Regions from separate parts of the Homo sapiens genome. Here region 2 is linked to region 1. The links come from fine-mapping of genetic effects on gene expression. A gene starts in region 1. The other region holds a variant in brackets. All regions are shown on one strand. Distances are from middle to middle. Region 1 holds the start of TBC1D24 (TBC1 domain family member 24). Region 2 has its middle 11 kb from the start of ZNF174.

Region 1 (4,380 bases):
CCACAGAACACACGGCATGGTGCCTCCTATGAAGTGTGAATTCAATAAATGCATTTTTATTGTTTTGTTTTTCAGAGACAGGGTCTCACTCTGTTGCCCTGGCTTGAGTGCAGTGGCACAATCACAGCTCACTGCAGTCTTGAGCTCCCAGGCTCAAGTGATCCTTCTGCCTCAGCTTCCCAAGTAGCTGGGACCACAGGCACATGCCACCATACTTGGCTAATTTTTTATAGAGACGAGACCTCCCTATGTTGCCCAAGGTGGTCTTGAACTCCTGGGCTCATGCGATCCTTCCACCTCAGCCTCCCAAAGTGTTGGGATTGCAGGCGTGAGCCACCGCACCTCGCTTAACAAACACATGTTGAAAGGATACAGAAAATCATTGAATAATGAATTCAAGTTGGTCCTCAGTAAAAAGCCTGAGGTTTTGTTTCTTTGATTTTATCTCCAATTGAAAGGCAATGTTTGAAACAGCCACTGAAATTGCTGCTTTGAGTTGAAAAGGACTTCTTTCTTCCATTTACAGAGTTGTCATAACAGAAAAGGTATGCTCAGACAGGTAAAACATTGAACAGGGTAAATGTTAAGTGCTTTTTTTGTAACCTGCTTCATTGTCCTTATGTACTTTAAACCAGAAACCATCTAAAGGCAAACATTTAATATGTTTTCTGAGCTTGGCTCAATCTGTAGATAATTAAGAGCAACACTGCATGCCCAAGGTCACTCGAGCCTGCTGGACACTCCTGGCAGGTGTGGTCAGCGAGAGCTAGTAAGGCTACCCTACAGGTGACTTCACAGACCCTGGGTGGCCAAATTTATTGTTGTTATGAAAACCTTGCCTAGATTACTTCTGCATCTCGGAAGGTCACCCTCAACCCAGTGGAAAGCCACTGCAATAGTTGACATCTATCACTCCGACAAAAGGACCTTGATCCACTTCAACCATCATGTAGAGAAAACCTCTGGTCCGGCCCTGGCCAGGCTGTGGGGAAGCAAAGATGAACAGCGTGGCTCCCGCCCTCTTCACAGGGAAAGACAGGCTTCTAAGTAGAGCAAGCACTCCCCAATAAGTCCTCCATGTAAAGCCTCTATCTGAGTGTTCAGATTAGATGAGGATCAACCCTCAGAATAAAAGGCGGTGCACGCAGGGGTCACGCCACAGGCTAGGAACAGTAACTGTAAAATCTTCGTAAGATTTTCTGATCTTCTCTAATCTGGATTGGTTTTTTTTCCCAGTGTGTGTTCCTTAAAATGAAAAGAACCTGACTGCTTGTCTTCGCCGCAACTGAGCAAACATTTACAGGTGCCTACTGTGTGCTGAAGACAGAGCCCTGGCCCTCGGGCGGAGGAAACGCCACGTGTGCCATCTACAGGTGCCTACTGTGTGCTGAGGACAGACTGTGAAGACGGAGCCCTGGACCTCGGGTGGAGGAAACGGCCCACGTGCCAAATAATGGGACGGTTCCTTCTGCACACTGCCTGGAAGTCACCTGGTGACTCCAGAGCAAACACAGCAAAACAGGGAAAAATCACCCGCTAGTGCTTCTATCGGCACTGGAAGGGCAGGCTGACGCCCCCTTTCTGGAATAAGCTGCTGGGTAAAGACAGTGACATCGGCTTCACAACCACAGCCACCAACCTAACAGCCCACCTGCACCTCCACACCACCCAGGTGGCTTTTAGACAACCTTTGACCTTTAATATCACCCCCGCAAGCAGTAACCCGGGGGCCACAGCGCGTTTCCCTGCGGGGCACGGCCATCAAAGAAGGCCTGTGGCCAGGCCGCGGGGACTCCCGCCTGGAGGGGGCGGGAACAGGTGCAGCCCAGCCCAGGTGGGGCCGGCTCTCCCCTCCGCTGTGCTGGCTCAGGGCTGGGAGTCCCTGGCTTCCACCTCCCAGGGCCCGAAGGACAGCGGCCGCCTGGCACGGCGCACCCAGAGGGGCCCCCCACTGGACAGGGCCGGGGGCTGGCGGACCCCCAAGCGGGTGGTCGGTGGGGGCGTGTGTCATCCCTGGGCGGGGCGGGGCGGGGCCCGGGGCCGCTGCAGGTCCACAGGGCAGGGCGTATCAGAATCTGTTGCAATCTCACCGAGCCCCCAAGAGGATTTCCGACCCTGCGGAGACGGAAAGCGCCCCAAGGAAACAGTGACACAGTCACTCTTCCAGACGACACCATGCCCTGGGCCGGGCCGCGGGCCAGCGACCGGGCGGGGATCGGGCCTCGCGCCCAGGGGGTCCCGCTCCTGCGCCCCCTCCCGTAGGCCAAGCCGCAGCTGCAGCGCCGGGCGGTGCCGGGCTCTGGAGCCCCCAACCCGCGCGTGGCCGGGGATCCCCGCCTCGAATGGGGCCCGCAGCCCGGCCCCCACGCTCCCGCCCCCAGCACGCGCCGACCGCGGTGACAGCGGGGACCCGGCCCCGCCACCCGCCACCCCGCCGCGCGCCCCCCGCACGCCCCGAGCGCACCCACCTCCGCGCGCCGCTTTCTCCTCAGCCTGCCGCGCCGGCCTTTCTGCGCACGCGCGTGCTCGGCCCCGCCCCCGCCGAGCTGTCGCCCTGTGCCCACCCCGGAGAGCCCGCGGGGCTCCGGCCTGCCCGGCTCTGGGCATGCGCGCTGACGGTCGGCGGCCGCAGCGGCGGAAGCTGGGGCCGGCCGGGAACCGGTCCCGTGCGGAGAGGAGGCAACGGCAGTGCGGTCCCGGGGGGACAAGCCAAGGGGGGCGGGGGGTGGCACGGCCCTGCCGAGGGCATCGGGGGCCCGGACAGCCGCCTGTCGGAGTCGCGGTCCGGCCGGGTCACGCGTGGATCCGGAACCGCGTGGGCACGACGTCCCTTCCCGAGTCGGGGGAGAAGGGCTGGAAGGAGGTTCTGGGACGGGCCCTGAGCTGAGGAGCTGTGGCGCCGAGGGTCAGAGACGCGGCAGAGAGAGGGACGGCCGGACGGAGCCGGCAGACGGGGACACAGGCGGCCAAGAAAGTTACGGGACCCGGCAGCAGACGCCGCGGGGCGCCCGGACGCGGACGCCCAGCCCGCAGGGGCCAAGGCCGCCGCCCTCGTGGGGCTGCAGGAGGCAGGGGACGCCCTGTCCCCCCATGGGGGTCCAAGGCGCCTGCGGTGGCCACAGTCTTTGGGGAGGTCAGTGCGCTCCCTGGCGGGTCGCCGCACAGGTGGGGGTGCATCACAGCGGCCCCGGGGATGATCTGAGATCCCCGAGAGGGCCCGGCATCACGAAGGATTCACAGCCTTCCGGGTATCCCAGTGCCCCTGGGACAGGGCCGACAGCCAGAGGGCGGGAGACCATGGGGTCCTCCGGGTGTGCCATATCATCTGCCTCTGTGCGGGGCGGGCTGTCGCTGCGCCGGTCACATCCCCCCAGGGCCAGACGGGAGGTACCGAGGGAGCTGCCGGCGGGGACGGGGCGGCGGCCCAGGTGGCGACACGCGCGACGCGAGCAAGGACTCCTTGGCAGGCGAAGGCACAGGGTGAACGTGCGCCTAGATGTGGGAGCAGCGGCCGCCCTGCCCAGCCGGCGGGCTCAGGCGGCGCTGCAGCGCCCCCGCCGTTCGCGTCGCTGCAGCCTCCGCAGGCGCCGCGTCCACGCGTCCCTCCAGGGTAGCACGAGGCTTCCGCGGGCGGCGATGAGCCCGGGCCCCCGGCCCCCCGCGCCCCCAGCCGCGGCTCCAGGCCCGCCCCCCAGCAGGAGGTAGCGGCGGCCGGGGAGCAGGCGCGGGCAGCCGCAGGCCGCATCCCCGGCGGGCACCCACAGCGCGCTACTCCCGCGCCGCGCGCGCTCCTCTCCGCTCCGGAACACGGCGAGCACCGCCACCGGGAAGCGTGTCCACGCGCCGCGCGCCTCGCCGCGCGCACCCACCGCCACCTGCACCGCTGCGGGGAGAGCGAGAGGGGGCGGGGTCAGGAAGGGGCGGCCTGCCCGCGGTAGGGGGAGGCACGGGGAGGACACCAGGAGGGCAGTGGGGGCTGAAGGGGCGGGGTCGCTGCCCGTGGAGGACCTGAGGGATGAGGATGGGCCTTGGGGCCCAGCAAGGGTCAAGGCGTTCCAAGGGGAAGCTGGCGGAGGAGGGAAGGTAGGGAGAGGAGGAAGGTGGGAAGGTCCGCGGGAGGCCTGAGGGCACCTACCATAGTCCTTCTTGCAGAACTTCTTTAGGCTGATGCGGTAGCTGCCACGGGCAGGTTTGCAGTGCGAGTCACAGTCTGGGTAGAAGGTGGGAGGCTGGCACAGACTCCCTTTCCCCACCCTCTCCTCCCAGAGCCCCCTCCCCCAAAGTCATGCCAGTCTGGGGCCCTGTCCTGTGTCCACTCACCCTGGGGCTGCACAGGGCTGCTGTCCTCAGTGGGTCCAGGGATAGGGGTCTCTGCAGAGA
Region 2 (4,380 bases), 940 kb before region 1:
CGCCAAGCAGCCCACTCAGAGGGGACTCTTTCAGGTATTTCCTGTCGAGGCCCCGCCCCTCACCCTAGGAGCGTTCTATCCTCCGGTGGCGATTTCCGGAAAAGCCTACCTGGAACATCCGGCCACAGGGCTCGCTCAGCTGCAGGGTCCTTACCTGTCTATTCCTGCCCGTTGTCCCTGGGTGACCCCGGGAATGGGGGCATGTGACTCCCCGGGGGACCGCGTTCCCTCCCTCCCAGCACGTCCCAGGCCCAGAGGAGGAGGCGGCTTCACCCTGGCGGGGGCTTGCCCTCAAACCTATCGGGCACTGACCCTTGGAGGAGGGCTCCCGGGTGCAGTGTTGAGGCGGGAAGGCAGAGATCTGCATTGAGAGGGTTTCGTTGCGATCTGCATTGAGAGGGCAACTGCAGCCAAGTAGAGCCATGTTTTGCTTTGAGAAGGTTTAAGAGGAATTCATCTAGCCAGTGAGGTCAGGGAGTCACTGTCTCACTGCTGTTTTCTTTTTTTTGAGACGGTGTTTCACTCTTGTGACTTCCAGTCTCTGGTTGCAAATATAAGGAGCTTGAAAGTTGTCACTCCATTCTAATGACAAATAAAAAGCTGAACAACCCGAAAAACCCAACAATTCTTCTGTAAGAGAAGTGAGGTCACAGGGCAAACAGCCACCCCAAAATTTGTAGAGACAGACTGGTGGATACGGAGAATCACAATCTATTGGAGCAGCTGAGGTCCTCTGGCAGACCATGCATGGGTACGGGGGCTGAGAGGAAACTTACATCTGAGTACAGGACCTTGGGTTCTTGTAGCCATTGGACCCTTCCTGGTCCTCTTGGCCTGGAGTTGAGCCTTATACCAAAGGAAGGCTATGCTTGGGGATGGTCTGTTGCCCAGGCTGGAGTGCAATGGTGCGATCTCAGCTCACTGCAACCTCTACCTTCCTTCAGCCTCGCCTCCCGGGTTCAAGAGATTCTCATGCCTCAGCCTCGTGAGTAGCTGGGACTACAGGCGCACACCACCACACGCGGCTAATTCTTTTTTTTTTTTTTTTTTTTGGTACAGACAGGATTTCACCATGTTGGCCAGGCTGGTTTTGAACTCCTGGCCTCAAATGATCCGCCTGCCTCGGCCTCCCAAAGTCCTGGGATTGCAGGTGTGAGCCACTGCGCCTGACCCCAACCCTTATAATTAAGTAGAAATCTATGGTCCTTCTCTTTTAGGAGAGATGCTCTTTGACTAACTTGATTCAAGATGGATATGTGCGGTGGGTTGAGTCATGGCACCCCAAATGTGTCCACATCCTAATACTTGGAACCCATTAAGTTTACCTTATATGGCAAAAGGGGCTTTGCAGATGTTATTAAGTTAAGGATCTTGAGATAGGGAGATTATTCTGGATTATGCCGGTGGGCCCAACATCATAACGGTCCTTATACAAGGCAAGCAGGAAGGTCATAGTCAGAGGAGAATGCGGTGGAATGAGATTGGAGTGATGCACTTTGAGGGTGGAGGCCAAAGGATGTGGGTGGCTGTTAGAAGCTGAAAAAGTCAAGGCAAGAGATTCACCCCTCAGAGCCTTCAGAGGAACCAGCCTTGCCGACAGCTTGATTTTGGCTGAGTGAAATCAATTTCAGATTTCTGACCTCTAGAACGATAAGGTTGTGGGTTTTTTTTTTTTTTTTTTTTTTTTTTTTTTGAGACGGAGTCTTGCTCTGTAGCCCAGGCTCTGGAGTGCAGTGGTGCAAACTCGGCTCACTGCAAGCTCCACCTCCTGGGTTCACGCCACTCTCCTGCCTCAGCCTCCTGAGTAGCTGGGACTACAGGTGCCTGCCACCACGCCCAGCTAATTTTTTTTGTATTTTTAGTAGAGACGGGGTTTCACTGTGTTAGCCAGGATGGTCTCGATCTTCTGACCTCGTGATCCACCCACCTCGGCCTCCCAAAGTGCTGGGATTACAGGCGTGAGCCACCGTGCCCGGCGGTTTTTTTGCTTTTTGTGTTTTTTTGTTTGTTTTTGTTTTTTGAGTCCAAGTTTCACTCTTGCTGCCCAGGCTGGAGTGCAGTGGCACAATCTCGGCCC[A/G]CTGCAGCCTCTGCCTCCCATGTTCAAGTGATTCTTCTGCCTCAGCCTCCCGAGTAGCTGGGATTATAGGCGTGCACCACCACATCCGGTTAATTTTTGTATTTTTAGTAGAGACAGGCTTTCACCATATTGGCCAGGCTGATCTTGAACTTCTGACCTCAGGTGAACTTTTCACAACCTTGGCCTCCCAAAGTGCTGGGATTACAGGTGTGAGCCACCACGCCCGGCCCCAGTTTGTGTTGTTTTAAACCATTAAGCTGGTGGGTCATCTGTTACCACACCACAAAGTACCTAATACAGATGTGACTATGACTTGGAGGTTATTAAGGGACAACAGTGAAATCAGCCTGGTTTCAGTAGGGTGAGGTGGAAACACAATGAGGAAGAAAGAGGCCTTGACCAGGGAGAGGTATCAGGATGGAGCCAGGTATGGGGCAGCTCGGATACAGAAGCTAAATTCTTCATGATCTAACATAACAGATGGGAATGGGATCAGGGCCTAAAGTACCTAAAGGACCACAAAAGCTGTAAGGAAGGCCACTGGGCCTTCAATAAGCCTCTGCCCAAAAGACAGAAGCTCACCTGTGCATTCAACAGATTGTCACCAGGATCTCTGAACTCAGGCAGACATGGGCCCTGTGGGTACAGTGGGGATTCTCAACTGTTCACATACTGAACATCTGTTTCTCTTGGCTGGTTATTGACAAAGTCCAGAAGCTAAAGTTATGGAAAAACAATGTTCTTGTTTTGAAAGAGCTGTTATAGTGCATGGTAGTTTCCCAGCCTTGGTGATACTGATTTTTTGAGCCAGGTCATTGCTGTGGGGGCTGGCTGTCCCGGCACTGCAGGCGGTTCAGTAGAACCCACTAGAGGCCAGCAACAAGCCTCCCTTCCCCAGTCCTAACAACCAAAAGTGTCTTTGGACTTTGTCCGACAACCCCTGGGGGGCTCCCAGTTTGAGCACCCCTGGTGTATGGGGTCTAGCAGAGAGGCTGGACCCCAATTTTCACAGAAGTCTGCCTAGGGCTCCTCAGGGAAGGCTTTGAGAGAAGGAAACTCTTGTGAGAGGGAGGAGGCAGGAGGGAGTGGGGAGCATCAGGAAATAAAGGCAAAGGAAACAATTGTGTGCAAAGGCCCCAAAGAGGACTCATAGGTGTGCATATGTCCCTCGGCAGTTAGAAGGGACAAGAGATTCCTTGGGGGGTACAGAAGAGCTCAGCCCACAGCCCTGAGGTGACTGGTAGTTACTTGATGATACTGATGTTTTGTGAAGAATGCTACCTTGCTGAGCGTACATCTGTAATCCCAGCACTTTGGGAGTCTAAAGTGAGAGGATGGCTTGAGCCCAGGAGTTCGAGGATAGACTGGGCAACACAGTGAGACTCTGTCTCTACAAAAAAATAGAAAAATTAGCCAGGCATGGTGGTGCATTCCTGTAGTCCCAACTGCTCGGGAGGCTGAGGAGGGAGGATTGCTTGAGCCCAGAAGATCGAAGCTATAGTGAGGCATGATCACGCCAGTGCACTCTAGCCTGGGCAACAGAGTGAGACCCTGTCTCAAAAAAAAAAAATGCTACTTGCTTCTTATTTTCTGCATCAGGAATGCACTAATCTGCCAAAAGTTTTCTCTAAACTGAGCAATGAGCTAGGAATTGTATACTGATTTGCATTTTAATTTCCGCTTTGAGAAAACGAGGAGGTGGCATTAGATGATCGCTCAGGCTTATTTCCAGGGCTCATTTTATATAAATATATTTTGTCACTTAAAAATACGCTGTTGAGGTACAATTTACATATCATAAAATTAGCCCATTTCAATTATTTTTAGTAAATTTACTGAGTTGTGCAACCATCACTGTAATCCAGTCTTAGAATATTTTCATTACCCCAATCCTTTTGCTATTTTTTTTTTTTCCTGAGACAGAGTCTCACTCTGTCATCCAGGCTAGAGTGGAGTGGTGCAATCATAGCTCACTGCAGCCTCTAACTCCTGGGCTCAAACAATACTTTTGCCTCAGCCTCCAAGAGTAGCTAGCTGGGATTATAGGCATGCACCATCATGCCTGGCTAATTTTTGTATTTTTTGTAGAGACAGGATTTAGCTACATTGCCCAGGCTGGTCTCAAACTCCTGGGCTCGATCACCCTGCCTCAGCCTCTCAAAGTGCTAGGATTACATGTGTGAGCCACTGTACCCCCATTGCATTTTGTTATTCTTAAAGCTAATGGGCTAAGTGAGAAAGGAGAGTGGGAAGAATTCCCTTTTATATCTCCTTAGTACTCTTTGTCCACTACTTGCTTCTCA

What was found. PIP is the estimated chance that this variant, and not a neighbour inherited with it, causes the effect. A credible set is the group of variants that fine-mapping cannot tell apart.
Region 2: its variant is the best candidate, but not a certain one, in a credible set for the expression of TBC1D24 in spleen (GTEx, PIP 0.85).

What each region holds. Positions count from the first base shown.
Region 1 is chr16:2,473,259-2,477,638 of GRCh38, reverse strand. It overlaps TBC1D24 (TBC1 domain family member 24), which reads right to left and starts at 2,512. Exons shown (of 8, transcript NM_001199107.2): 1 at 2,469-2,512. NTN3 (netrin 3) reads right to left here. Exons shown (of 6, transcript NM_006181.3): 4 at 4,321-4,371; 5 at 4,136-4,210; 6 at 3,494-3,883. The coding sequence ends at 3,534. RefSeq lists silencers at 1,751-1,950, 2,411-2,900, 3,301-3,570, 3,631-3,690, 3,761-3,910.
Region 2 is chr16:3,409,774-3,414,153 of GRCh38, reverse strand. No RefSeq gene overlaps it. Among named protein-coding and RNA genes, the nearest start is that of ZNF174, 11 kb to the right of the region's middle. The variant A/G (reference allele first, on the strand shown) is at 2,078.